4 linked regions of the Homo sapiens genome follow. The protein of the gene in region 1 interacts with the protein of each later gene in a pairwise test. Each region holds a gene or a part of one and is shown in the gene's direction. Other genes may lie near its edges. The genes, in order: TSSK3, ATP23, LHX3 and PRDM6.

The links.
Region 2: the proteins of TSSK3 (region 1) and ATP23 interact in binary tests that used the Homo sapiens proteins (3 or more experiments, as listed by UniProt).
Region 3: the proteins of TSSK3 (region 1) and LHX3 interact in binary tests that used the Homo sapiens proteins (3 or more experiments, as listed by UniProt).
Region 4: the proteins of TSSK3 (region 1) and PRDM6 interact in binary tests that used the Homo sapiens proteins (3 or more experiments, as listed by UniProt).

The regions. Positions count from the first base shown.
Region 1 is NC_000001.11:32,357,666-32,364,815, forward strand, and holds TSSK3 (testis-specific serine/threonine-protein kinase 3), read left to right. Parts: upstream 1-4,873; 5' UTR 4,874-5,036; coding exon 5,037-5,181; intron 5,182-5,929; coding exon 5,930-6,591; 3' UTR 6,592-6,647; downstream 6,648-7,150. Other genes in the region: protein FAM229A, read right to left, coding at 3,768-3,870, 4,065-4,211, 4,293-4,426. UniProt on the Homo sapiens protein: Serine/threonine protein kinase required for spermatid development and male fertility.
Region 2 is NC_000012.12:57,936,829-57,944,591, forward strand, and holds the start of ATP23 (mitochondrial inner membrane protease ATP23 homolog), read left to right. Parts: upstream 1-4,738; 5' UTR 4,739-4,873; coding exon 4,874-5,060; exon of another isoform or gene 5,061-5,069; coding exon of another isoform or gene 5,070-5,100; intron 5,101-7,763.
Region 3 is NC_000009.12:136,195,727-136,202,136, reverse strand, and holds the end of LHX3 (LIM/homeobox protein Lhx3), read left to right. Parts: intron 1-109; coding exon of another isoform or gene 110-116; intron 117-462; exon of another isoform or gene 463-926; coding exon of another isoform or gene 927-972; intron 973-1,383; coding exon 1,384-1,555; intron 1,556-2,256; coding exon 2,257-2,459; intron 2,460-3,077; coding exon 3,078-3,229; intron 3,230-3,316; coding exon 3,317-3,485; intron 3,486-4,393; coding exon 4,394-4,812; 3' UTR 4,813-5,887; downstream 5,888-6,410. UniProt on the Homo sapiens protein: Transcription factor.
Region 4 is NC_000005.10:123,190,223-123,194,779, forward strand, and holds the end of PRDM6 (putative histone-lysine N-methyltransferase PRDM6), read left to right. Parts: 3' UTR 1-4,044; downstream 4,045-4,557. UniProt on the Homo sapiens protein: Putative histone methyltransferase that acts as a transcriptional repressor of smooth muscle gene expression.

The DNA.
Region 1 (7,150 bases):
ACCCCCCTGGTTGATTGGCTCAGTAAGAGGAGGAGGATTTGTGGGGGATTTGCTTGTGGTTGGGGTGGCTGTCCCCCTCTCATATCAAGCGATGGGAAAGGGTAGCGCTGACGTCGATTATTGCCATGGTGATACAGCAACCCTTTCCCTGCTGTCTCCATGGTAACCTGGGGGGTCCATCTGTACTTCGCCCCCTCCTTCTAAAAGGGGGTCCCTTAGGGAGGGGCTGGCTAATAAGGTGTCTGGGAAATAAGTCAGGGAAGGCAGTGATTGGAGCATCCCCCTTTGCCTGGCCCCTCCCCATTCCTCAGGCCCAGAGAGTAAGGCTGGGATCTGCATTGGGTCCTGCACTGGGGTCCGGGGACAGATGTAACCTTTAGGGTGAGGGAGGCAGCTCTGTCTTTTCCACCTGGGGATTCCCTTGGAAATTCCCCTGCCCCCAATCCCCCCACCAAGTTCTTAGGCTCCTGAACAGAACTGCTAGGAAGTTGGCAGAGAGAGGCAAGAGGGTTTCCTCAGCCCTCTTCAGGGCTGGACATCACCCAACCCCTGGGGACAGTGTCTTTGGCTGTCTGGCTGTCTGCTGTCCCTTGAAGCCAAAGGTAGGAGCAGCAGCCGTAGCAGTCTCTCTTGCTTATCAAGTGGTAGCTTTGGCAGTGATTCCTGCATGGTGCTATACATACAGGTCCTTACTGAAACTTTCTACCAGGTGTCAATTAGCCCTACTTAACAGATTTGAAGATGGAGGCTCAGAGGGGCTAAGTAACTAGCTCAAGACTGCACAGTTAGAGAAACAGCAGAGTTAGGACTTGAACTCAGCACTAGTTTCGGCCAGTGGCTCTTCCAGTGGAAAGGAGTAAGAAGAAACAGAACAGGATGGAAGAGAAGAGAAATAGGAGAATGAAGTGACCCAGGTAGGAGCCTGTCGTGCTCTGCCTGCCTGCAGAACAAAGTTCAAACTCCTTCACCTGGTACGCAAAGGTCTCCTTGATCCAGCTTCTCTTCTGTTAACCCATTCCTGGATCCCCTGCATTCTATGCTCTGAAAGGGAAAATGATGTCAGATTCAGGGCTGGGTTCTCAGTACCAGGCATGGCCCAGGAAGGTGTTGATGAAAATTGATGAACTGAGTTTCTTGAAATTGTCCTTCACTTTCCTGCCTCCAGGCCTTTACCCACAATGCTTCCTCCCCAAAGGGAATGCCCTTTCTCTTGCTCATGGACATTCTAGAGCTAACTAGCCCCATTGGCAAGGACTGCGTCTAGAATCTTTGTATCCCTCACAAATCAGGTACGTGGGATGTGGCAGTAACTGGTTTCTAAATTTTTTTTTTTTTTTTGAGATGGAGTCTCACTCTGTCACCTAGGCTGGAGTGCAGTGGTGCGATCTCAGCTCACTGCAAGCTCCACCTCCTGGGTTCACACCATTCTCCTGCCTCAGCCTCCCGAGTAGCTGGGACTACAGGTTCCCGCCACCACGCCTGGCTAATTTTTTTGTATTTTTAGTAGAGACGGGGTTTCACCATGTTAGCCAGGATGGTCTTCATCTCCTGACCTCATGATCCACCTGCCTCGGCCTCCCAAAGTGCTGGGATTATAGGCGTGATCCATCATGCCCAGCCTAATTTTTTTTAGAGACAGGATCTCACTCTGTTGCTCAGGCTGGAGTGCAGTGGTGTGACCTTGGCTCATTGCAGCGTCAAACTCCTGGGCTCAAGCAATCTTCCTGCCTCAGGCTCCCCGGTAGCTAGGACTACAAGCACACGCCACCATACCTGGTTTTTTTGTTTTGTTTTGTTTTTAGAGATGGGATCTTGCTGTTTTCCATGCTGGTCTTGAACTCCTGGGCTCAAGTGATCCTCCTGCCTCAGCCTCCCAAAGTGCTGGGATTACAGGCCTGAGCCACCATGCCTGGCCTATTTTTTTTTTTTTTTTAAGGAAAGGAGGGTTGAGAAGAGAGGAGAAGGAAGTGGGAGAGATGGAAAAAAAGGAAGAATGAGAAGGATTCACTATTTGGGGGCTGGCAGAGTCCAAAGAGACCAGCTGATGCCTTTTTTTTTTAAACCAGTGAGGAAATAGGCCCTTTTAGTAAGCCTCCTACATGGGGACTGCCTGGGAGAGCATTTTATGTGGAAACTGAGAAGGGTATCCCTTTTGGGTGACGTGGAATTTTAAGGTGCTCTAGGGAAAGCTTGGACTTCTCTACCCTATGAGGATTAGAGGAGGGTGTTGAATCAATTGTCCTTAGATCTCAGGGGACAGGAGACTGAACCTGACCTTTAGGTTACACTCCCCCCGTAACAAAATTGGAAAGTAGAATATACGGGCTCATTAAAGCCAAATTGGAAAGTAGGAAATAGTTGTTTAGCTTAAATACTAGCACCTCCAGGCAGGCTTCCTGTCATGGGCCCCTCCGAGGGCAGATCTTAGGTCATGTGGTCTCAGGATGCTGAGGAGTGTGCTAGACTCTCATTGGGGGACCTTGGGTAAGTCTCAAAGGCTCAGTTCACTCATCTGTAAAATAGGAAGTTAAACCAACGTCTTTCTTTCTCTCTCTTTTTTTTTTTTTTTTGGATAGAGTCTTGCTCTGTTGCCCAGGCTGGAGTGCAGTGGCATGATCTCAGCTCACTGCAACCTCTGCCTCCTGGGTTCAAGGAATTCTCCTGCCTCAGCCTCCCGAGTGGCTGGGATTACAGGTGCGTACCACCACACCCAGCTAATTTTTGTATTTTTAGTAGAGACGGGGTTTCGCCATGTTGGCCAGGCTGGTCTCGAACTCCTGACCTTGTGATCCACCTGCCTCGGTCTCCCAAAGTGCTGGGATTACAGGCGTGAGCCACCGCGCCTGGCAAGCCACCATTTTTCAAATGGCCTCTTCCCCAATCTTTTTATGATCACTTCAGTCCTGGGAGAAACCAAGGCTCAGGATGGACTGGGGCAGCTCCAAACCCTTCCAATAAGGAAGGTCCCAGGCACCTAGGGCCACAAAGAGCAAGTCGCAGAACTTTGTCGCAGAACTTCTCGCTCGAGAGGATTAAAATGGGTCTGGTCGGGTGCCTGTAGTCCCAGCTACTTGGGAGGCTGAGGCAGGAGAATTGTTTGAACCTGGGAGGCAGAGGTTGCAGTGAACAGAGATCATGCCACTGCAGTCCAGCCTGGGAAACAGAGCGAGACTCCATCTCATAGATAGATAGATAGATAGATAGATAGATAGATAGATAGATAGATAGATGATAGATAGATAAGATAGATAGATAGCCTGGTGTGGGTGGCCTATGGCTGTATTCTATGTTACTTGTCGGTCCACCTCTTCCTCCTGTTCCCCGCTTCTGTGGGTTGCCAGGGTCCAGCACAGTGATGTGAATTTCACCGGAGAATCACCAGAGGGTTAGAGAGATGGACCAGGGCAGGGCCCAAGGGAAAGGCTGCCCAGGAGGGGTCAGGACCAGCAAGATACGAGAGGAGTGAAGTGGCGTAGGTTGAAAGGCGGAAGGGCGGGCCCCTAAGGCTGGGTCCAAACGAGGAGGCTGCGGAAGGGAAAGTGTTATTGGACTGGGCAGAGCAGCTGGTGGGCCCGACGGATAGACATACACTGCCAGCCCGGAGTGGAAAGAACAGTTTGTGCTGTGCTTTATTAAAATGTGCATCATTCTTTTATTTTAAAATGTGCATCATTGTCTCGTGCTCGGCGCATGCGACCTCAGCGTGGTGGCCCGCTGGGGGCCTCGTTCCCGCCCAGCTCCCGCGGAGCCGCAGGGAGCAGGCGCACTCACGTGGCGCGGGCCCGGGGGCTCCCGCCCATGGCGAGGTAGACGTCGATGGGCACGTGCAGCAGCGTCAGGCAGTGGCATCCAGGGCAGCGACGAAGCGGCCTGGGGAAATTGACGCGCGACAGGGGCCGCTGAGGCAGGGGCTTGGCCCATCCTGTGGGGCGCACCCAGGGAGTGCACCTGGGGTCCCCGGGGGTCCGGACGTGGATGCGGGGTCCTGACTGCTGGGGGCGCCAAGTGGGACGGAGGGCGGGGCCGCGGGACGGGCGGAGGCGGGGGTGGGGCGCGGGCCTTACCTGACCGGGTTGTGCTCCGTCGCTACCGCCTCCGGGCTGTCCTGGGACTCGGGGGCGGCGGCAAGGCCACGGGAGTCTCCGGCCTCAATGGGGAATCTCCGACCCTGCGGGGGCTCCTGGGCGCTCATGTCCAAGCCCCGGGGCGCTCTGCGCGGGGAGTGGCGGTCAGGCCTCTCCCGGGTCGCCGGGCGCCGCCGCCTCGCGCCCGCCCCCTGGGCCGTCGCTCACCTCCCGGCGGTTGAGACCGGTCCCAGGCTAGAAGCAGCTGCCGGAGCCCTGGCCGCGGGAGAACGCTCCGGTCCAGGCGGAGCCGGGCAGGTCTCTGTGGCGTGCCCGGGCCCGGGCGTCGAGGAGGGCAGCATTGTGACCCGGGCCGCGGCGCGCTGACCTCACAGAGCACGTTCCTCCCACTGGAGAACCCCCAACGGTGCCCCCTGCCGCCCCTGGCACTCAGCGCGGGCCAGAATCGGGGACTGGAGGCCTCTGGCCATGGCGCCTGGAGACGGGGTCGCGCAGACCCCGGACACCCGAGGGGGGCGCAGCAGGCCAGGGCAACCCGCCGCGAGGCGGCGTCCACGCCGAGGAGCCGCGCATTCCCGGTCCACACAGACGCGGCGGAGCGCCCTCCCAGGCGGGACTACAACTCAATGCCTGGCACGGGGGCGGGCTCGGCGGTGACTTAATCCGGGCTGAGTTTGGTGGTGGTAGTGAGGGCAGGTAGGGGCACTGCCCATTTTGGCCAAGGGTCACACAGCATCTACATCACAATTGCACCGGAGTTTAAAAATGTCTGGCCCTGTCCCTCCCCACCACCCGCCGCTGTGTCCAGACAGAGAATGTTCTAACGCTGGGGGCGGCTGCGGATGAAGTCCTTGGGGAGAAAAGGAGCAGGCCAAGGGCGATGGTGGAGTAGAGCTGCCTCTCAGAGGCAGCATGAGCTGAGAGGGTGATAGGAAGGCGGCGCTAGACAGCATGGAGGACTTTCTGCTCTCCAATGGGTACCAGCTGGGCAAGACCATTGGGGAAGGGACCTACTCAAAAGTCAAAGAAGCATTTTCCAAAAAACACCAAAGAAAAGTGGCAATTAAAGTTATAGACAAGATGGGAGGGCCAGAAGGTGAGCCGGGGCCCCTTTGGAGGGAAGGAGGGAGGACTGGCTGAGGTGGGTGGGTGCTTCCTCCTGTTTGTTAGAACGATCATTCGATCATTCCCTGCTCCCGCTGGCCTGGAACCAAGCAAGCCCGATGGCAGCTCTGGAGTGGGTCAGTGGGGAACAGAGGGGTTCTGGGAGTCCAGGAACATTACACCCCCCCAGAATGCAAGATGAAAGTGGCATGAGGTGAAGGATCCTCAGAGGCAAAACCTGAGCCAGGCTTTCCTTTCCGGCAGGGGAACAGAGACTGGCAGAGGCCACAACCAGGGCTGGTAGAGAACAGGGGCTGGTGCCAAGGCCCGTGGAGATGGGAAAAAGGAAGACAGGGCTCATGGAAAGAATTGTGGGGTCAGGGGACAGTGGCGGGAGGAGCTGGCTCACCACCCTGTGGACAAATCAGGCCTTATAATTTGTGATTCTGTGGCTTTGTCTAAAAGTCCCTAAAGCACCTTGATATCCAGTCTCACAGACTGCTCACAACAGTCCACAAGGCTGGTGGGGAGTGCTTCTTTTGAATGATATACTAACGACAAAAATAATAGAAGTGAACATTCTTTGCAATGTCCAAGCAGCTAGACACACTTAAGACCATTAAGAAAGCCAAGAAATAAGACCCAGACAAGGTGGGCAGAAGTTGGAAGGCAGGAGACAGGTGTGAGGAGGTGGGCCTTTCTGATCTGCCAGCCCATCTCTCCTCCCCTTACTTCCTCAGAGTTTATCCAGAGATTCCTCCCTCGGGAGCTCCAAATCGTCCGTACCCTGGACCACAAGAACATCATCCAGGTGTATGAGATGCTGGAGTCTGCCGACGGGAAAATCTGCCTGGTGATGGAGCTCGCTGAGGGAGGGGATGTCTTTGACTGCGTGCTGAATGGGGGGCCACTGCCTGAAAGCCGGGCCAAGGCCCTCTTCCGTCAGATGGTTGAGGCCATCCGCTACTGCCATGGCTGTGGTGTGGCCCACCGGGACCTCAAATGTGAGAACGCCTTGTTGCAGGGCTTCAACCTGAAGCTGACTGACTTTGGCTTTGCCAAGGTGTTGCCCAAGTCACACCGGGAGCTGAGCCAGACCTTCTGCGGCAGTACAGCCTATGCTGCCCCCGAGGTGCTGCAGGGCATTCCCCACGATAGCAAAAAAGGTGATGTCTGGAGCATGGGTGTGGTCCTGTATGTCATGCTCTGTGCCAGCCTACCTTTTGACGACACAGACATCCCCAAGATGCTGTGGCAGCAGCAGAAGGGGGTGTCCTTCCCCACTCATCTGAGCATCTCGGCCGATTGCCAGGACCTGCTCAAGAGGCTCCTGGAACCCGATATGATCCTCCGGCCTTCAATTGAAGAAGTTAGTTGGCATCCATGGCTAGCAAGCACTTGATAAAAGCAATGGCAAGTGCTCTCCAATAAAGTAGGGGGAGAAAGCAAACCCAAAAACCCGCTTCTAAAATGGTGATATATATTTTACGCTTTAAGTTTACTTATCCTAAAACTTACCTACATCTACCCCAGCCTTACTACTACTCTTTCCTTTTAGAGATCTTCATGGAATCAAAGGGCCTCATTCAGACTTCCTTTTTTTTTTTTAAGAGTCTTGCTCTGTCGCCCAGGCTGGAATGCAGTGGCACGATTCCAGTTCACTGCAACTCTGCTTCCCAGGTTCAAGCGATTCTCCTGCCTCAGCCTCCCCAGTAGCTGGGATTACAGGCACCTCCCACCACGCCTGGCTATTTCTGTATTTTTAGTAGAGATGGGGTTTCACCATGTTGGCCAGGCTGGTCTGGAACTCCTGACCTTAGTGATCCACCCACCTTGGCCTCCCAAAATGTTGGGATTACAGGCATGAGCCACTGCGCCTGGCATGACAAGTGATTTTCATACTAAAGTTAATTAAAATAGACCCAAGAATCATATACAAACAGGGGGAAGAGAGGATAAAA
Region 2 (7,763 bases), on another chromosome or scaffold:
GTGTTAGCAGGCAGTTTCAGCAGCCAGGCCTGTAGAGAATTATATTTTTCAAGTGATATTTGTGACCTGAATGTTTTTTCCCTCTGGCCTCTCCACTCTTTAACTGGTATGACAAAAGTGACCCGATTTATATGATCAACTTTCACAGCTGACAGGTGGTAAACTCTTTACAATTATATGTAATTTATTTGTTACTGTGATAGATTTATACAATTTTAAATAATTTAGTTCCCATTAAAAAAGCAATTATTTTTGCTTTAGAAAATGAAGGCCAAAAAAACCCCCAAAACACAAAACCTCCAAATCCTACCCATTTAAGGACAACCAATGTGAATACTTTGTAGGAGTCTTCCAGACCCTTTCTATGAATTATAGTAAGTACAAATTCAAAATGGAATCATACTGTATATGCTAGTTTGGAACTTAAAAAACTTTTTTTTTTTTGAGACAAAGTTACTGTGTTGCCCAGGCTGCAGTGTAGTGGCCCGATCTCGGCTTACTGCAACCTCTCCACCACCTGGGCTCAAGCAATTCTCCTGCCTCAGTCTCCTGAGTAGCTTGGGATTATAGGCGGCGCCACCACACCCAGCTAATTTTTGTATTTTTAGTAGAGATGAGGTTTCACCATGTTGGTCAGGCTGGTCTCGAACTCCTCATCCCAAGTGATCTGCCTTCCTCGGTCTCCCAAAGTGCTGGGATTACAGGCATGAGCCACCCGCGCCCAGCCTGAATTTTTTTTTTTTTTGAGCTGTTGTCTTGCTCTGTCGCCCAGGCTGGAGTGCAGTGGCGCGATCCCAGCTCACTGAGGCAGGAGAATTGCTTGAACCCAGGAGGCAGAGGTTGCAGTGAGCCGGGATGGCGCCACTGCACTCCAGCCTGGGCGACAGAGCAAGACTCTGGCTCAAAAAACAAAAAAACAAAAAAACAAAACAAAACACCCAAAAACTTTTAATGAACATATTTTGTTTAAAAAAGACACTTAACATGGTTGTATATATTCCATTATACCTCTTGTTGGATATTTAAACAATTGATGTCTTCCCCTGCCGCCCCTTTTTTTTGAGGAGGAGGTGTCTTGCTGTATCACACAGGCTGGTCTTGAACTTCTGGGCTCAGGCAGTCCTCCTGCCTTAGCCTCCCAAATAGCTATGATTACATGCCACTGGCCTGGCCATTTTTGCTCTCAATTAGTGCTGCAATGGAGAAATGAAAATCCTTATAGCTAAATCTTTGCCCTTGCTCTAATTTCTTTGTGGTAATTCTTTTTCTTTTTAAAACTCATTTGTATTTGCTGTTCATTATCTCTTCCTTAATGTGTTTTTATTCCATACCTATGTCTTTATACTGTATACAGATGAAGTTACACATGGCATCCAAAGCCCACTTGATTTTTTAAAGTTTATTTTTCTGATTATAAAGGTAATACATGCTTATTGAGGAACATTAGAAAATTTCAGGAGAATGTAACAAAAAAATTCCAATACCTAGACAACCATTGATACTGTGGTATGAATTTTTTTCCATCTGTTTCTTCAACAATGAGTATTGAAACAGTTTTAGCTAATTTAGTAAGGAAATGTTGCAGCTTTTGGTTTGTACGTTTTTACTTATTCCTGTAGCTGAAGGGTATTGCAAATAGTATCCAGAAATAAAGCCACATACCTACAACCAACTGATCTTAGACAATGACAACAAAAACATATAATGGGAAAAGACACTCTATTTAATAAATGGTGCTACACAAAGTGGATAGACATGCAGAGGAATGAAACTGCACCCCTTTCTTTCACCATATACCAAAATTAACTCAAGATGAATTAGAGTTAAATTTAAGACCTGAAACAATAAAAACCCTAGAAGAAAACCTAGGAAAAACTCTTGTGGAGATTGACCTAGGCAAATAATTTATGAGCAAGTCCTCAAAAGCAAATGCAACAAAAACAAAAACAGACAAATGAGTTTCATTAAGCTAAAAAGCTTCTGCATAGTAAGATAAAGAATCAAATAACCTACAGAATGGAAGAACATATTTACAAACTGTGCATCCAACAAAGGACTAATATCCAGAATCTACAAGGAACTCAACCAGAAAAAACTAAATAACCCTATTCAAAAGTGGGCAAAAGACAGGAATAGACATTTCTCAAAAGAAGACATACAAGTGGCTAATAAACATGATAAACTTCTCAACATCACTAATCATCAGAGAAATGCAGATTAAAACCACGGTGAGATACCATCTTGCACCAGTCAGAATGACTATTATTAAAAAGTCAAAAAACAACCCGATATTGATGAGAATTCAGAAAAAAGAGATTGCCTATACACTGTTGGTGGGAATGTAAATTAGTACAACCTCTGTGGAAACTAGTATGGAGATTTCTCAAAGAACTAAAAATAGAACTACCATTTGACCCAGCAATCTCACTACTGGCTACCCAAAGGAAAACAAATTGTGACTGGGTGTGGTGGCTCATGCTTGTAATCCTAGAGCTTTGGGAGGCTGAGGCAGGAGGATCACTTGATGCCAGGAGTTTGAGACCAGCCTGAGCAATATAGCAAAAAACCTCCATCTCTACAAAAAATTAAAAAGTTAACCAGACATGATGGTGCATGCCAGTAGTTCTAGCTACTCGAGAGACTGAGGTGGTAGGATTGCTTAAGCCCAAGAATTCAAGGCTGTGGTGAGCTATGATTACGCCACTGCACTCCAGCCTGGGTGACAGAGCAAGAACCTGTCTCTGAAAAAGAAAAAAAAAAGAAGAAATTGTTATGACAAAAAGACAAAGACATAGAATCAACCATTAACCTAAGTGTCCACCAACAGATGGTTAAAGAAAATGTGGTTATGCATACACCACGGAATACTATGCAGCCATAAAAATAATGAAATCATGTCTTTTGCAGCAACATGGATGGAGCTGGGGGCCATTATCCTAAGTGAAATAACTCAGAAGCAGAAAATCAAACACCCCATGTTCTCACTTATAAGTGGAAGCTAAAGACTGAGTGCACGTGGACATACAGAGGGGAATAATAGACACTGGGGACTCCAAAAGTGGGGAGAGTGGGAGGGGAAGGGTGAGGGTTGAAAAATTAACTATTGGGTACAATGTTCACTGTTTGGGTGATGGGTACACTAGAAGCCCAGACCTCACCACTACACAATATATCTGTATAATAAACCTACACATAAACCACCTGAATCTATGTATTAAAAAAGAAAGCATGAAAAAAATCCAAATAGTATTTCAAATGTATATAGGCTATGGTCCATTTCTAGGCATATCTAGCCTGCCTTCAGTATTCCAAACTAATCACACTGAATTGTAATGGCTTAGTTTTCCATATGTGTGTTTTAGTTCAATAACTGGATTGAAAGCTAGTTGTGTGGTCCTAGATAAATTATTGAATTTTGCTGAGCCCACTTTATCTGCAAATTAGAGATAATACTTACTTTGCAGGGTTGTAGTGAGGATTGGAAATAATGTATCCAAGGTGAATTTAATTAAAAAGTAGTTACTTTTTTTTTGACTTCTGGCTTTAATAGTCTATGTACATAGGAGTTGTTTGTATTTTTATAATATTCCAGATGAATGACTATCCTAGCATCCCACTCAATTTAGATATTGAGCATCTATGACACATAAAGCACTGTTCATAACCCTAAAGGCCTGCTGAGCCTATATTTTTCAGATATGTTTCTTACATAAACCACATGCTGCTCTTCATCTTTAGCAATTTTCTTAGTCATGTGTTTCCTCAGTCTCTTACACCTTGCCTGGCCCATCATAGTAGGTGCTGAATAAATGTGTGAGCTGAGTGGAATAATTTAGTAGGAAAAGAGAAACACACAAATTGGATAAAACCTGGCAGGCTACGATGAAAATGATTAACAGGTACAAAGTGCTTTGTACATTGGGAGATCAGGAGACATTAATTTTGATTAAGGTATCTGGGAATGCCCTGTGGAGTAGGCAGATTTGACCTGGGCCCCAATCATAGGGGCTGAGGCAAGGAGCTTAAAGATGGAAATGACAGTATGAGTTAAGGCTGAGAGGTAGAAGTAAACAGGGTGCGCTTTGTTATCAGGGAGTTATTGGTGGGGGGTGGGGCAGAAGAGTAGGGTAAACGAATGGGTACAGGTGGGAAGAAAAAATGTAGTTGGTTCCTACATTTTGAGGATTTTGATGTGACTAGTCATTCTTTATAGTTTTAAAACGTTTCTGAAAAACACTGCTTTCAATATGGCCAGAGGCATCTTTGGGCAGAGTGGATCTGAGGGATGGCAGGGGTCGGGAAAGTGGCGGGCCAGAAATGACAACTGGCTTGCCCCGGAAGAAGGCAGGGAGTGGGAGGATGGCCGAGACCTTCGGCGGCACAAGAGCAGTTAGTGGCCAATATTCGCCCCGAGGTGAGGAAGGAGTGTCTGCGAGGAGGCGGGACACCCTTAGAGCTCAGCAGGCAGCAGGAAGCTGCAGAACAACGCTTATAAAGACATGTCACCCACACTGGGAGGGCAGCAGCGAAATCCGCGGCAGCCGGGTTGTTACAGCCTTTGAGGGAAGTCGCAAGACCCAGCTCCGCCCAACAGCATCGGGCCCCGCGCCCCGCCCCATGCCCTCGCCCCGCCCCTCATCCCTCGCCCCGCCCCTCGCCTCTCGCCCCGCCCCTCGCCTCTCGCCCCGCCTCCCGCGCTCCCCGTCAGGTTCAAAGCCCCCTCCCGCCTAACGTCTTCAGCCCAGCCAGGCTGCCCTTCTTCCCTGCGGAGGGAGGGCCTGGGCGGTCGCGTTGGCGGGAGGGAGGTTACCTTTCCCAGTCTCGCTCTGGCCGCCTGAGCCAGGAGGAAGCAGCGGCGAGGTCTGCGGGAGGCATGGCGGGAGCTCCGGACGAGCGCCGGCGGGGCCCCGCGGCAGGGGAGCAGCTGCAGCAGCAACACGTCTCTTGCCAGGTCTTCCCCGAGCGTCTGGCCCAGGGGAATCCCCAGCAAGGGTTCTTCTCCAGCTTCTTCACCAGCAACCAGAAGTGCCAGCTTAGGCTCCTGAAGACGCTGGAGACAAGTAGGAGCCATGACCTGGAGGCTGTGGTTCCACAGAATGGGTCTGAGACCGGGTGGGCGAGGAAGGGCCTGGGCAACACCTGGCCAGGGGCTTCAGGTTCAGCACAGAGTCTAGACAGACTGGGCATCATGGGGGCTGGGTTGGGAGCCTGAGGCTCAGTTTCCCCACTAGAGGTGGCGCTGAGACCCTTTTCGTCGCTGTTTTTGGCTTGTGGAATGAATTTGTCTGCCCTTTTTTGTCACTCACTGTTGTGACAGATCCTCCGATTTCTTACATAAGTTATGCAGCCACACTGTGACTTCAGGGTAAGGGTGAGGCCAAGTTTTAAAGTGCCAGCCAGGTTAATTAAGGCACACAAAGGCTGTAAAAATGTAAAAATGTAATTAAGGCATACCAAGGCTGTAAAAATATAAAAGCAGTTTTGCAAACCTACCGTTCCTTGGAAGTGGTTCATGCATGAATGGGCTTCAGAGCGTAGAAATCCCTGAAATGGTCTGTGAAATCGTGTGTATGTGTGTGTGTGTGCCCCTAAGTGCATTTTTTTTTTTTTTTTGAGACGGAGTCTCGCTCTGTCGCCCAGGCTGGGGTGCAGTGGCGCGATCTTTGCTCACTGCAAGCTCCGCCTACTGGGTTCACGCCGTTCTCCTGCCTCAGCCTCCCGAGTAGCTGGGACTACAGGCGCTCGCCACCACACCCTGCTAATTTTTTGTATTTTTAGTAGAGACGGGTTTTCACCGTGTTAGCCAGGATGGTCTTGATCTCCTGACCTCGTGATCTGCCTGCCTCGGCCTCCCAAAGTGCTGGGATTACAGGCGTGAGTCACTGCGCCCGGCCCAAAGTGTATTTTTTTTTGGTCGGGGGAGAGAGTTAATAGCTTCATCATATTCTCAAAGAGGCCAACGACCCCACAAAGGTTAAGAACTGCTGTGGGTTAAACAGGGACACAACTGCCCATTGACAAATTTCTCTCCCGTCCCAGAGACATTGCACTAGAGAAGATTTCTTAATTCCTTTACATTGACATAGACTTCTTAAGTTTACTTTCAGATACATTCAGAAAATTAGTCTTAAACATACTTGTCCCAAAGCAAGGTTACTATTTCATAGCTAGTCAGTCACAGTTCAAAAGTCAACCACCGAAAGATTTTCCAACCTTCTTGGGATTACCTGCTTGTAGAGACTCAGGGAGGTAGGAGGAGGAAGGGGAGTTGAGGGTAAAAGGGGAGAGAATGATGATATTGTATTTACTGTACAAATATGTATTGAGTGCCTCCCAGGTTCTGGTGGGGGAAGTAGAAAGATGAGTTAGCACCCTGCCTTGAAGGTGCTTCAAAGTGGAATAGAGTGGAAAGAGTATGGGTTGCAGAGTTAGATGTGGGTTCAAATGCGGATCCCTTTCCTCAGGTGTGGAAGGTGACTTAACTTCTCTGATCCTCACTATCCTTATTGTAAAAAAAGAGAAGGGGAAAATACCTTTTTTAGGGTTGTTGTGAAGAATAGATTTTATGGGGCTGGGTACGGTGGCTCATGCCTGTAATCTCAGCACTTTGGGGAGCCAAGGCAGGGGGATTGCTTGAGCTCAGATGTTTAAGACCAGCCTGGGTAATATAGGGAGACCCTGTCTCTACAAAAAATAAAAAAAATTAGCTGGATGTGGTGGCTCATGCCTGCAGTCCCAACTATTTAGGAGGCTGAGGCAGGAGATTTGCTTGAACCCAGGAGGCTGAGGCTGCAGTGAGCTGTTATTGCATCACTGCACTCCAGCCTGGGCAACAGAGCGAGACCCTGTCTAAAAAAAAAAAAAGTACTGATTTTATGAATGTAAAGTACCAGCATATCAGGAGCTGAGCTGAATAAATGGTAGCTGTTTTTACAGTGGAAGGGCCACACAGTGGAGGAAGAGTGGAAATAGATAGGATGTGAGGAAGGTGGGGTGCTGAACATGAGCCCCAGTAGGAATCAATGGACCTTGATCTTCCAAGGGCAGGGTGGCTGGGAGGGTCTTTTGGTGGTATTAAAGTGTCAACCTGCAGCTTTAAAATGCTATCCCTGGGTGGGGCGTGGTGGTGGAAACCAGACCTCATGGGAGTCTCTTTTTTTTTTTTTTTTTTCACCAAAGCAATTTTATTCTAAATATTGCTGCAGGTCCTTTTTGAAGTACTAAACCATGGTTTTTTTTTTTTTTAAGTACAAGGACTACAGACTTTTGAAACTGTTTTAATTTTGTAAAATTCTCCTAGTTGCATGAATAATAATGTGCTTAATATGGTGCCTGCTACCTGGTATTCACTCAATAATACGTATTGTTAACAATAATTATTCTACTGTGAACACTCTTGCAAGGGGCAGGTTGGTAAAGCAGTAACCTATACCTGACTTTCTCATCTCACATTTCTTTTTCTCACCTATTTTTGCCTTCAACATTTTTTTTAAACCTTAGTTTCTTTTTCACTTTTTTTGGGTTACATCATATAATTGGCTGTGCATTTATATTCTCAGACAAGATGCCTATGTGAAAAGTTAATATCAGAGGCATTTGGGCTCCTTGTACTTTCCTGTAGTAGTCACGGGCCCATAGAGTCTTAGATGTGGAAGGGCCCTCAGGAATCGTCTAGGCCTCCCCGTCCCCTTACAGGGAAACCTCTGTGCTATTGCTGGCCAGATACTCTACAGACCTCTCCTGGAATACAGTTACCTGTTCCT
Region 3 (6,410 bases), on another chromosome or scaffold:
ACTGCGCGCCCGCGCTCGGGAGAGCTGGCCGGAGCGGGCGGGCTGGCGTCCAGGCTCCGCCGACCCCGCCATCCCTGACACAGGAGCCCCCGCCAGGGCTGGAGTCGCCATGCAGCGTAAGGCTGGGGTCGCGGGCGCGGCGCGGGGTGGGCTGGGGCGGCTTTTGCCCGACGCGGGCGCCGGCGGCGAGCTGCGGCCGAGGCGCTGTCCGGTCCGCGGTGCTGAATCCGCGCTGTGTCGGCCTGTCGGGCCGCCCCGCTCCGAGCCGGGTCCTCGCCTGCGATCGCTGCCCACGATGGGGACCCCGGGCGCGCAGCGGGTCCTCGACGCTCCGCACCCGGAGCTGCGGTTTTGCCGGATGCGGGGCGCATTCATCGCCGGTTTCCCGCCACTGCGTGGGGAGGCGCAGCCCAGTTTTTTCCGCCGGAGGTCGAGGGAGCCCCTTCCTGGTGTCTCTCACCCACTGGGAGATGGGCTGGAGCCGGCGGGGTCCACAGCCAGGGAGGCGGGTGCAATATGTCAGTAAATCCCGGTCCCTTCAGCGGGCACTCCTCTCTTCCAGAGACTTTTTCTAAGTGAAGAGGGAGTCCTCAGCCCTTGACACCTGGAAAACCCGCTCACAGACTCGAGGCTCCCACAGGGCACCCTTGGACCTCCCCAGTGTGGTTCCTCCAGGGGGCCTGCAGTACCGAAGTGGGGTGTGGGGGGCAGAAGCAGCGGGAAGCCAGACGTTTGAGTAACTCTGACGGTGTTGGGGGCACCCACGCCTGACACAAAGGCAGTGGATCGGCTTGTCCAGTCCACTCATAAGTAATTTTGCGGCTGCCCAATGATGGGGAAGGCATTGATATTTACCCCGGAGGCCTGCAGACAGGGCCACCAGGCAGGGCAGCCACATTTGCGAGGAGTCCCTAGAAAGAGTGGCCATGACGCTTAACATGAAGGAGACCCGATGGGGTGCCCCAGCTCCAGGTGATGGTGAAGACCCGTTTCCCTATGTTTCCTGCCGGGCTTCAGAGAGCAGATCCCCCTGGGGTGGGGTTTTCATTTGAGCTCCACATGCACCCTTCTTGGCACTGGCAACATTTTGTAATTGAGTATTCAGCCTCGTGAAATGGCCTGGGCTGCTTTCTTGCTCACACACATTTTTAGACCGATGTCAGTTTCCCCTTAGCTCCTGACATAGGATGCGGTGCCTGCACACTCCCGGAACTTGCGGGGCCACTTAAGCTGGCTGGGGAAGAGGGTGTGTAGGGAAAGGAGGACCCCTCGGCAGCCCTGAGTCCTGTGGGCCGGAGGGGAGACTGGCTCGCGTTGGGGTGGGAAGGTGGCTTCACTGCCTCCTGGTCTACGAGGTGACCCAGAACTTCCTCGTGCCCACAGAGATCCCGCTGTGCGCTGGCTGTGACCAGCACATCCTGGACCGCTTCATCCTCAAGGCTCTGGACCGCCACTGGCACAGCAAGTGTCTCAAGTGCAGCGACTGCCACACGCCACTGGCCGAGCGCTGCTTCAGCCGAGGGGAGAGCGTTTACTGCAAGGACGACTTTTTCAAGTGAGCCCCGAAACCTCACCTCAGTGTGGGAGCGGAGGGCACGCCTGCCCCAGGGACTCCTCCCCTCACAATCACCAAGGCCAGGCCCTCGAAGCCTGCGTCTCTCGCAATCCCAGCCCACTCCTGTCACCCAGGCAGGGCACCCTGTGGCCTGGCCAAATTAAGGGTGGGGCCTCTCCATGGGTGCTCCCTGGGTGGCTGGGCCTGGCTGGGACATCAGCAAGTATTATTTGGAAAAAAAAGCAATTTATTACCTAAATCACAGAAGCAGTCATTAGAGAAGATACACCCCTATTTGTAGGATTCTACTGGACTTAGTTCCTCCGAAATTGGTGATGTTTTAGTTCCTAATGCTGGCACCCAGCGGCTCTGGCCCAGTGGCCTTCATGGCTCCAGCTGTGGGGTGTGAGGGACTGGCCCCAGATGGGTCCTCTCCCTCCGGATTCACCTTCCCAGATCCAGCATGGGTCCTGCAGGCAATGGCGGCTGGGCTCCCCGAGGTCTTTCTGAGATTGAGGTTCCCTTCTCAGTGGGAGTGGGCAGCTCTGCCCCGGCGGCCAGGCTGGCGACCACCCTGCAGGGCCGGACAGAGCCTTCCTCCGGGGCCGCCTTCCCAGGCAGCCGCTTGCCTCTCTCCAACCCGCTCGGGGCGAAATGAGCCTCGCGCTTCCGCGCTGAGCCCGGCCCTGTGCGTCCCGCAGGCGCTTCGGGACCAAGTGCGCCGCGTGCCAGCTGGGCATCCCGCCCACGCAGGTGGTGCGCCGCGCCCAGGACTTCGTGTACCACCTGCACTGCTTTGCCTGCGTCGTGTGCAAGCGGCAGCTGGCCACGGGCGACGAGTTCTACCTCATGGAGGACAGCCGGCTCGTGTGCAAGGCGGACTACGAAACCGCCAAGCAGCGAGGTCAGCCGAGGGGACGACGCTCCCACCTTTCCTGGTCTGAAAAAAATGGGGCTGAGGCCACGCCCAGGGGGGCGTCCGGGGAAATTCTCTCCCCAAGCGCTCACTAAGGGGGCCTGGGCTAGGGCGGTGTAGGCAGCAGGAAGCCGAGGCCGGGAACGGCGGAGTCACGGACAGACCCGCGTCCCGAACCGCTTCGTTCGGTCCGAAGTGTGCGGCTTTTCGCCCCTGGTCGGAATTATCGCCCTAAATTCTTGGCCGCGAAGGCTGGGCCATACCCACACCCTTAGAATAAAGGGGAGCCCGCGGGGAAATCAGGGTGCTTGGAGAAGGGAGCCAAGGCTGAAGGCGGGGGCGCCGTGGAGGTGCGATTTTAGGGAAGGCGCCGCCCCCGCCCCCGCGGCAGAACCCGCCCTCCGCCGGCGCCCCCTCCACCCCAGCCCGGGTGCTGCCCGTTTTTGCCAATCGCTCCCAGCGCCCGCGCCTTCCGAGAAGCCTGTGGGGCGGGATGGGGGTGGGCACCTGAGGCCCCGACGTCCCCGCGCCGGCCGGGGTGGGAGGGCTGGGGGTCCGGCCGGGGCCGGAGGGGCTGCCGCGCCTCACCGCTCGCCCGCCGCGCAGAGGCCGAGGCCACGGCCAAGCGGCCGCGCACGACCATCACCGCCAAGCAGCTGGAGACGCTGAAGAGCGCTTACAACACCTCGCCCAAGCCGGCGCGCCACGTGCGCGAGCAGCTCTCGTCCGAGACGGGCCTGGACATGCGCGTGGTGCAGGTCAGCGCTCGCCCCTGCTTCCCTCCCGCCCGCGGCCTTGGGGGCCCCCGCAGAGCCGGGCGGCCGCTCACCCCGCCCCGCCCCCAGGTTTGGTTCCAGAACCGCCGGGCCAAGGAGAAGAGGCTGAAGAAGGACGCCGGCCGGCAGCGCTGGGGGCAGTATTTCCGCAACATGAAGCGCTCCCGCGGCGGCTCCAAGTCGGACAAGGACAGCGTTCAGGAGGGGCAGGACAGCGACGCTGAGGTCTCCTTCCCCGGTAGGCGGAGGGATCGCGGAGCTCGGGGGGGGACGAGCGCGCGTCGGCGGGGTCGCAGGGGTCCCAGGGAGCCCGCGGATCTGAATTTCCCATGGAGTTAGTGGACTCCTTAAGTTCTACTTTCAAAAGCATTTCACTTACAGAACCTGCTCCCCCAGCACCCTCCCCGCCCTGGGTGGCCACTCCGGACCACTGCTTTTCCCCTGGTGGGGACACAATCCCTGTGGCCCGACCTGTCCCCAAGCTGGGCGCCTACGGGCTTTCTCATGGGGGGGTGGGCGTGTCCAGGCCGTCTCTCTGGCTCCTAGCCCTTGCAGTGATTTTTAGGAGAATGGGCAGTGCATTTCGGGAAAGACTGAGTCGAAGTCCCAGCTGCTTGGAGTTGGGGGAGGGGGCTACCTGGGGTCAGGGAGAGAAGGTTCCATACCCTTCTGTGGGGCCTGGATTATTTATTTCATTCTCCGGGCACCGGGGATGCTGCGTCCCCATCTGTTGATGCCCATCCTCAGAATGTGGACAAGACACTCTCTTTTGGGCTGCCTCGTGACCCGGGCTACTCACTCAGCCACTCTGGAACTAAATATCCTTGTCTGCAAAATGTGGGTGGTGGTATCTGTGCCCCCTTCCTAGGCTGCTGTGGGGCTGGTCCTGAAAGCCTGGGCCCTGGCTGGGCTGTTCCTGACTCTGATCCCACCAGGCCTGAGACACCTGGGCTGACTCAGGGGTGAGGGCAGTGGAGGGGCAGGGGCAGCCATGCTCCAACAGTAGAAGGGGCCTGTTATGACCTGTCATGTGGTGTGGGGCAGCCACTCTTTCTCCGACCCAGGGGTGCCTCCGCCTGCAGGATGGGACTCTGAGGGGCCGCAGGTGGAGGGCAGGCGCTGACTGAGCCTCTGCTTCTGTTGCAGATGAGCCTTCCTTGGCGGAAATGGGCCCGGCCAATGGCCTCTACGGGAGCTTGGGGGAACCCACCCAGGCCTTGGGCCGGCCCTCGGGAGCCCTGGGCAACTTCTCCCTGGAGCATGGAGGCCTGGCAGGCCCAGAGCAGTACCGAGAGCTGCGTCCCGGCAGCCCCTACGGTGTCCCCCCATCCCCCGCCGCCCCGCAGAGCCTCCCTGGCCCCCAGCCCCTCCTCTCCAGCCTGGTGTACCCAGACACCAGCTTGGGCCTTGTGCCCTCGGGAGCCCCCGGCGGGCCCCCACCCATGAGGGTGCTGGCAGGGAACGGACCCAGTTCTGACCTATCCACGGGGAGCAGCGGGGGTTACCCCGACTTCCCTGCCAGCCCCGCCTCCTGGCTGGATGAGGTAGACCACGCTCAGTTCTGACCCAGGCCCGGCTCCACCCTGCACCTCACACGAGGGAGCTGCCCCTGGGTGGGCGGCTCGGGGCTGCTGGGGTTTCCGAGGAAGTGGGGCCAGGGCGTCAAGGGAGGGCTGGTGCCTTCGGAGCCTCCCACTGCCGACCGCACAGCTCCCTCTCTGGGGGCTGAGGGACCCACCTGGCCCCTCCTCTGACACAGGGCTGGCCCGCCAGGTGGCCTCCCAGCAAGCCAGCCTTTTTTGTAAGCAAATTTCTCCCCTTTATTGACCAATTAACTGAGCACTTGCTGCTATTTCTAGACATGAAATGTCACCTTGCTGAGGCCCAGCCCAGCCCAGCATAGCCCGAGGGCTGGAAAAACGCTTTCATCTCTAAAACTGAGAAATCATCATAATTGTGCTTTCACTTCCCAGGCTCCATGTGTCTTGGAGCCGTCACCCCGAGGCTCCCTCTTTAGGTCGGAGATTGGCCTTGCCTGTCGAGGCAAGAGGCTGCAGAGGCGGGGACACACCTGTGTCCTCCGGGAGAGGCCCCCTCCTCTCCCCAGACCACAGGGGGCCTCTCTGCCTCCAGCCCCACCTTCCCCGGGAGAAGCTTTCCCCAATCCCCAGGTCTCTAGATCATTCTGTTCTCGAGTATCCTGTGGAGGAGGCAAAAATGCCTGGCGCCCCTTCTCTCCAAGCTCAATTCTCTAAGCCCCTCAGGGTCTCCTCCTCACCCCACCCCAGGCCCTTGGTGTCCAGGCTGCACCCACAGATGTCTGTTGCCAAACAGCCTGCCCTCCCTGCCGGAGCCGGCTCTGCCAGCCCCAGATTGGGAAGTCTCCCCGCTGGAGAAGGGTGGGGCTCCTCTGAGCCTGCCCTGCCTCCTCCATCAGATCCTTTGGGAAGAAGTTTCTGGGAGATGCCCGCAGCTGTGCGTGCCCCAGACACAAAGGCTGGCCTGTGTGTAAGTCAAAGTCACTCCCGCAAACCTGAATCTCGAGCTACCTATTGGTTCTGTGAATGTTCTGTGTCTTTTATTTATTCTCGGGTGATCAGCTCTTTCCAAGACTTCAATAAATTTGTCAGTTACAGTCAATGGAAGGCCCGCGTTTTTTTGAGGCTGCGGGGGTTGGGGAGTGTTGGGTGTGGGGAACATTCTGTGAATGTTGAGAGGCAGCCCTGGAGGGGCCCTGAGTCCCCCTAGTTCGTTGCTTGGGCTGGCACCTAGTATGAATTTGGGCTCTCTTTATCCCTGGATCTTGGCCATGCTCATGAGCACTGGAAGGAGGTGGGGGGAACAGCCCATCCCTTCCTGATGGAGGGGAGGGGTTGCGGTCTCCACACCCTGTCCCTGGGAGAGGCAGGGGTTGGGATGTCCAGAGAGCATGATGGGGGTGGGAGGTGGGCCGTGTGTGCCATTCACAGCTTGCAGCTGGCACCAACCCCAGGACATAGGCTGGTAGGGTGACCAGGCTCATGGTCATGGAAGTCTCTCCAGCTTGGATTCCAATCCTGGCTCTTCTAACTTGCTGTGTGACCCTGGGCTGGGGGCTGGAACCCTCTGAGCCCTGCTTCCCCGTCCCCACCCCCCAACCCCCCCAACCCCGCCGCCGCCGTAA
Region 4 (4,557 bases), on another chromosome or scaffold:
TAGCGTATGTTCCTTTATTTAGCAGAGTCTAAGACGAAAGGTAATGCCAGGGAAAAGTCAGGGTGCAATAGGATGAGAGATGGAGCTGCAGACCTTTGCATTTCTAGAAAAATCTCAATATCCCAAGGCAAAGTTGTATTTTCCCCAGGATATGTGCATACATTTTTCATAGATAAGCTTTTCATTTTTGTTTTGTTTTTATCTTTAAAAATGACTTTTTTGGAGGAGATATACTTCTAAAAAGTTATTGTATGGCTAATTAAAGCTATGAAACTTAATCTCATATAATTTATATAATTTGATTCAGTTGGTACATTTTTTATTGTGTTCATTTAAATGTAGCCTTCTTGGGAAACTATGTATAACAGGAAAAGATCATGACATCATTGTGTCCTCATAGGGCTCATAATTGAATTTTACCTTGTAAAAATTTCATTCTGGTTCAGGTATGCAAAGATTTATACGAACATTTAGCAGTTCATCAATTTTTAAATCAGATGTTCATTGTTTCATTCATTTATTCAACAAGTATTTATTGAACTCTTATTTTATATAAAGACCCCATTTTATGTGTTCACCATAAGCAGCATTATTTAAGTGACTATTCATGATAAAATAATATTCTCCTCCTAAGTGGCTGCTAGTAAAATGGGTATTTTAGTCCTTTAGACCATTGTCTCAGTGAAGTTAAAGATTTTGTTCCAACTGGGAAAATCTGAGAGAGGTAAATTCATCTGGGGACCAGAAAATAGCATATTGCAAAACAAGTTAAGATGCACAACTTGGTTGTCTTTGCTTAACTCACTGGGCTATTGGTTGTTAGCAGCAGTATCAAGAGACCAGGATTAGGGCCTGGGTCTTGGGTTTTTATGACCCCCCCTTTCAATGATAAGGCAACAAGTTGGGTACAAGGCTGGAGTTGCTCAGGGAAGGAGATCTGCGACCCTGAATGGGTCAGAGTTGCCTCATTAGTGGTAAGCGTTGGCAGTGTAGTCCCTTTCCCCGGTGTGCAGAAGTAACATTATTTGTTTTGCACTAATTTAAAATTTAAAATGCAAGTATCTATTGAGTTGTTTAAAATGGGAATCATGGCACGTCTCACAAAGAGGGCATTTCCAGAACAGCAGGGTTAACGGGTCCCTCTGAGTGTACCCAGCAGCCTGCGTTTAGGAGCAAATTCATTGCTCTCATATTAAGGCTATGCATGCCTACAGAAACCAGGCCAGGAATAAGAAATAAATAATCACATTTCCTGAAATGTTTATCTGTTTCTTCCTTGACATGAATTTAATTTTTATTTCCCAGAGTCTTTACTAGATCCTGACATCAGATTTTAAAAGATACTGAGATATATGCTTCTTTAAATGATAACTGTAAGTTCCAGAAATGTTATTCACTTGTCAGGATCCTTTTAAGGTGAAGAGCTTTGGAAAATTTTATGCGCTAACTAGATACCTGGGTGATCATCAACCCAAAGTTTAAAGTTCTCCCCTCACTAGCATTTATCTGAACTACCACAAAACAACAACGCAGGTTACTAGGAAGGCACCTATTTCAGCCCTCCCCAAGATTGCATTCTACAAACCCAGAGATCAGCTGTCAGGTACAACTGGCCAGACAGAGCCAAACTGAAAAGAATATTGCTTTATCTGTGGAAACCTTGCCACAGATGTTTAACCTGTAGTCCATGGCTGTGTTTGACATTTAAAATATTTATTTAGTTTCTTCCTTTAAATAATAAATGCCAGATGTTTCATCAGATCAATATGTAAAACGATAACAAAAAATATGTCGGAAACAGGTCAAAGTCATGAAACATTTGAATTGTCTTTCCTATAGACTGAATATGCCACCACTGCACTTAGAAAACCTATGGAGGAAATTTTAATGGAAAAATAAGGACATTCTGCGCTTATTCCCACAGAGGTTGATGGGAATGATGATGATTATAAATTATATTGTGCAATTACTGCCATGCCTTGTTCTAATGCTTAATGTGGATTATCTCTTTTAATCCTTAGTAACTCTATAACAAAGATACTATCATTATCCCCTTCTCATATATGCTTAACAGTTTTAGCTTTGTAGCTTCTTTAGTTTTTTTCCTCCTTCAAAGCCATAAACAGGCAATTGTTAAAAGAGGAAAATACTTCTCTATGTAAAGCTTTTTTTTGAGAACAAGAGCTTTTAAAAATTAATAAACACAAGTATAATTTATTTATAAAATGTGTTTGTGGAAACAATACTGAAGTGCTATTAAAACACGTATCATTATAGATGCTGATTTTGTCATGCCCAAATCTCATTGCTGGACAGAATTTCAACTATTCCATTGCTGTCAGGCATTGTTTTTGTTTTTCTAAGCAGGAATCTAAAATTCCACATTGAAAGAAAAAAAAATAACCCTCTCAAGTGTGATATACATTAGGACAAATGGCAACAGGCAGGAAGGGCAGGTTGTGTTGGAGGGTGGCCAGAAGAGAATAAGGTTCGAACACTATCGACAGGTAAAAACACATCCTCAACGGGGCTAAGTGAAATCTCGTTTTCTTTCTTTGTTCTGACTGAATGCTAAGTGAGTTACTTTCCAGGCATCAATGGAGTCATTACGCAGTTGTGTGCATTAAGAATATGGGCTTATGTTGTTAGCCTGTTGGTTTAAAGCAGTGCAGCAGAAAGACTGGAGTCATTATAGGTTTGGTTTGTCAAAGGCACAGATAGTGTAGTTACATGCATGAGGTACTCAAGGAACCAGTTCAAGTTCTGGGGCACAATCTAGATGAAACTGTGAGGTTTGTTCAAAAAGTAAGTGTACAAAATTTCATCATGAACTGGCTTTATTACAACTCTTTACCGTGGTTTATTGAAACCACAATGTATACTACTTTCCTCCAGATTCTGATTCTAATGGGCACATTTGTTTGTTGAAATGATAAATATATTTTCCTTGTCAAACATGGTGGGTCCTGGTTGATATCTCCTGTTTCCTGCCTTGAAAAACATCCTTGTTGGTGCCTTTCTCCCACTTTGGTACATCACTCCCAACTGAAAACAGTCTAGATATAAACTTTAACAAGCTGGAGATCTATTTCTACAGCACAACTCTTTCATGTTTAAAAGCAATTATGCCGTATCAGGTGATTGCCACATGTTGGGGAAAGCAGCCATCTTAGAGCAAAAGTCTGCCAACCCACAGTCCCTGTTGATCCACATGTGGGCATTGTCTAATGTTAACAAAATCAGCACTTGTAGACTTACTTTCTCTGAACAATCTAGTACACTTCTCTAGTTTCTCCCAACCTGGAGAAAATGTATAGCAAAAGCCAGAGGCAAAATTATTCTCCTTAGCAGTTCTAAGTATTTCATGAAAAAGCCTTCCCCCAGTTTAAATGCAGAGGCTAAGGTGATGACTAACGAATTAAGGAAAACTTTGGCTCAGATCAGCAAAATTATTTTGGAAACTTAATGTCCCAAGTTAATTATTTTTTTTATATCAAGGGGAAGACATCCAGTTCTGTAGGATGCTAATAGAAGTGTGATATTTAGATGCTATTAGGACATTGTATACATTTCTTTAATGTGGTTATTTTAAGTTTAGGACTGTAAATGTTCCCTACTGGAATAGAAATATGTCTCTCTCCAACTTTCCACCAAATAAAATGGTTAGAGTGAATGCCCAGTTTCACATCTGCCTTTTGGAGTTTGGAAAGCTTAAACAAGTCAGTTAAGAGAATGAGAAGAATCTCACTGTGGGTGATAAGGAGTGTGTAGTTTGCTGTAAGGGCCACTGATATGACAAGAATGATTATCCCACAGTAAGAATGGGTAAAACTTAATAAAGTTTTCTAACTTTATTAAACTCACATTATTTAATGAAAAAATAACTGCAAAGGACCAATGAGATCATGCATGCTGCTGTATTCTTGTGATGGAATCTACCAGGATTAAGTTGTATTTAAATGAAAAAACAGGTACACATTTAGAGATCATTGACCAAGAAATGTAAATATATTTGATTAATAAAACGTTTTTATGATGACTCGATCTTCCCTTGGATTCTGTCTTTTCCAGTCCCACAGTCATTTTTCAAGCACCATCTGATTCTAGTGTGCAGCTTAGGTAGTAGGCAGTCAACAAACTCTTGTTGGGGAAGTATAAGCTAGAAAATACACCTAGCAAGCAGGAAGGTTGTTAAAATTCAGCCCTGAGGTTTATTCGGATGCATTTGAGATTACTGTTTTCCTTATTCATGTGCTCACATGCTCATTTGCCCAACCAAGTCAGGTGCACAGCTTCTTAAGGAAACTGTGCGCAGAGACCCAGCCACAAATCTGTGGCAGGCTGGACTTGATATTTGACCTCTAACCCCATAAGCTTTGGAGCACAGCAGAAAGCACTTGCCCGGAGAGTGGCCTGGGGCTATGACTCTTCTGAATGTATGTGATTGGGGGCTCTCAGAAAGAAAGCCAAAGTCAGCTGTTTGTCTCTTGTTCTGTTGGAAAATAAAATTTCACTTAGAAAAAATATGTGAGCATGTAGGAATAGCAAGAAGGACAC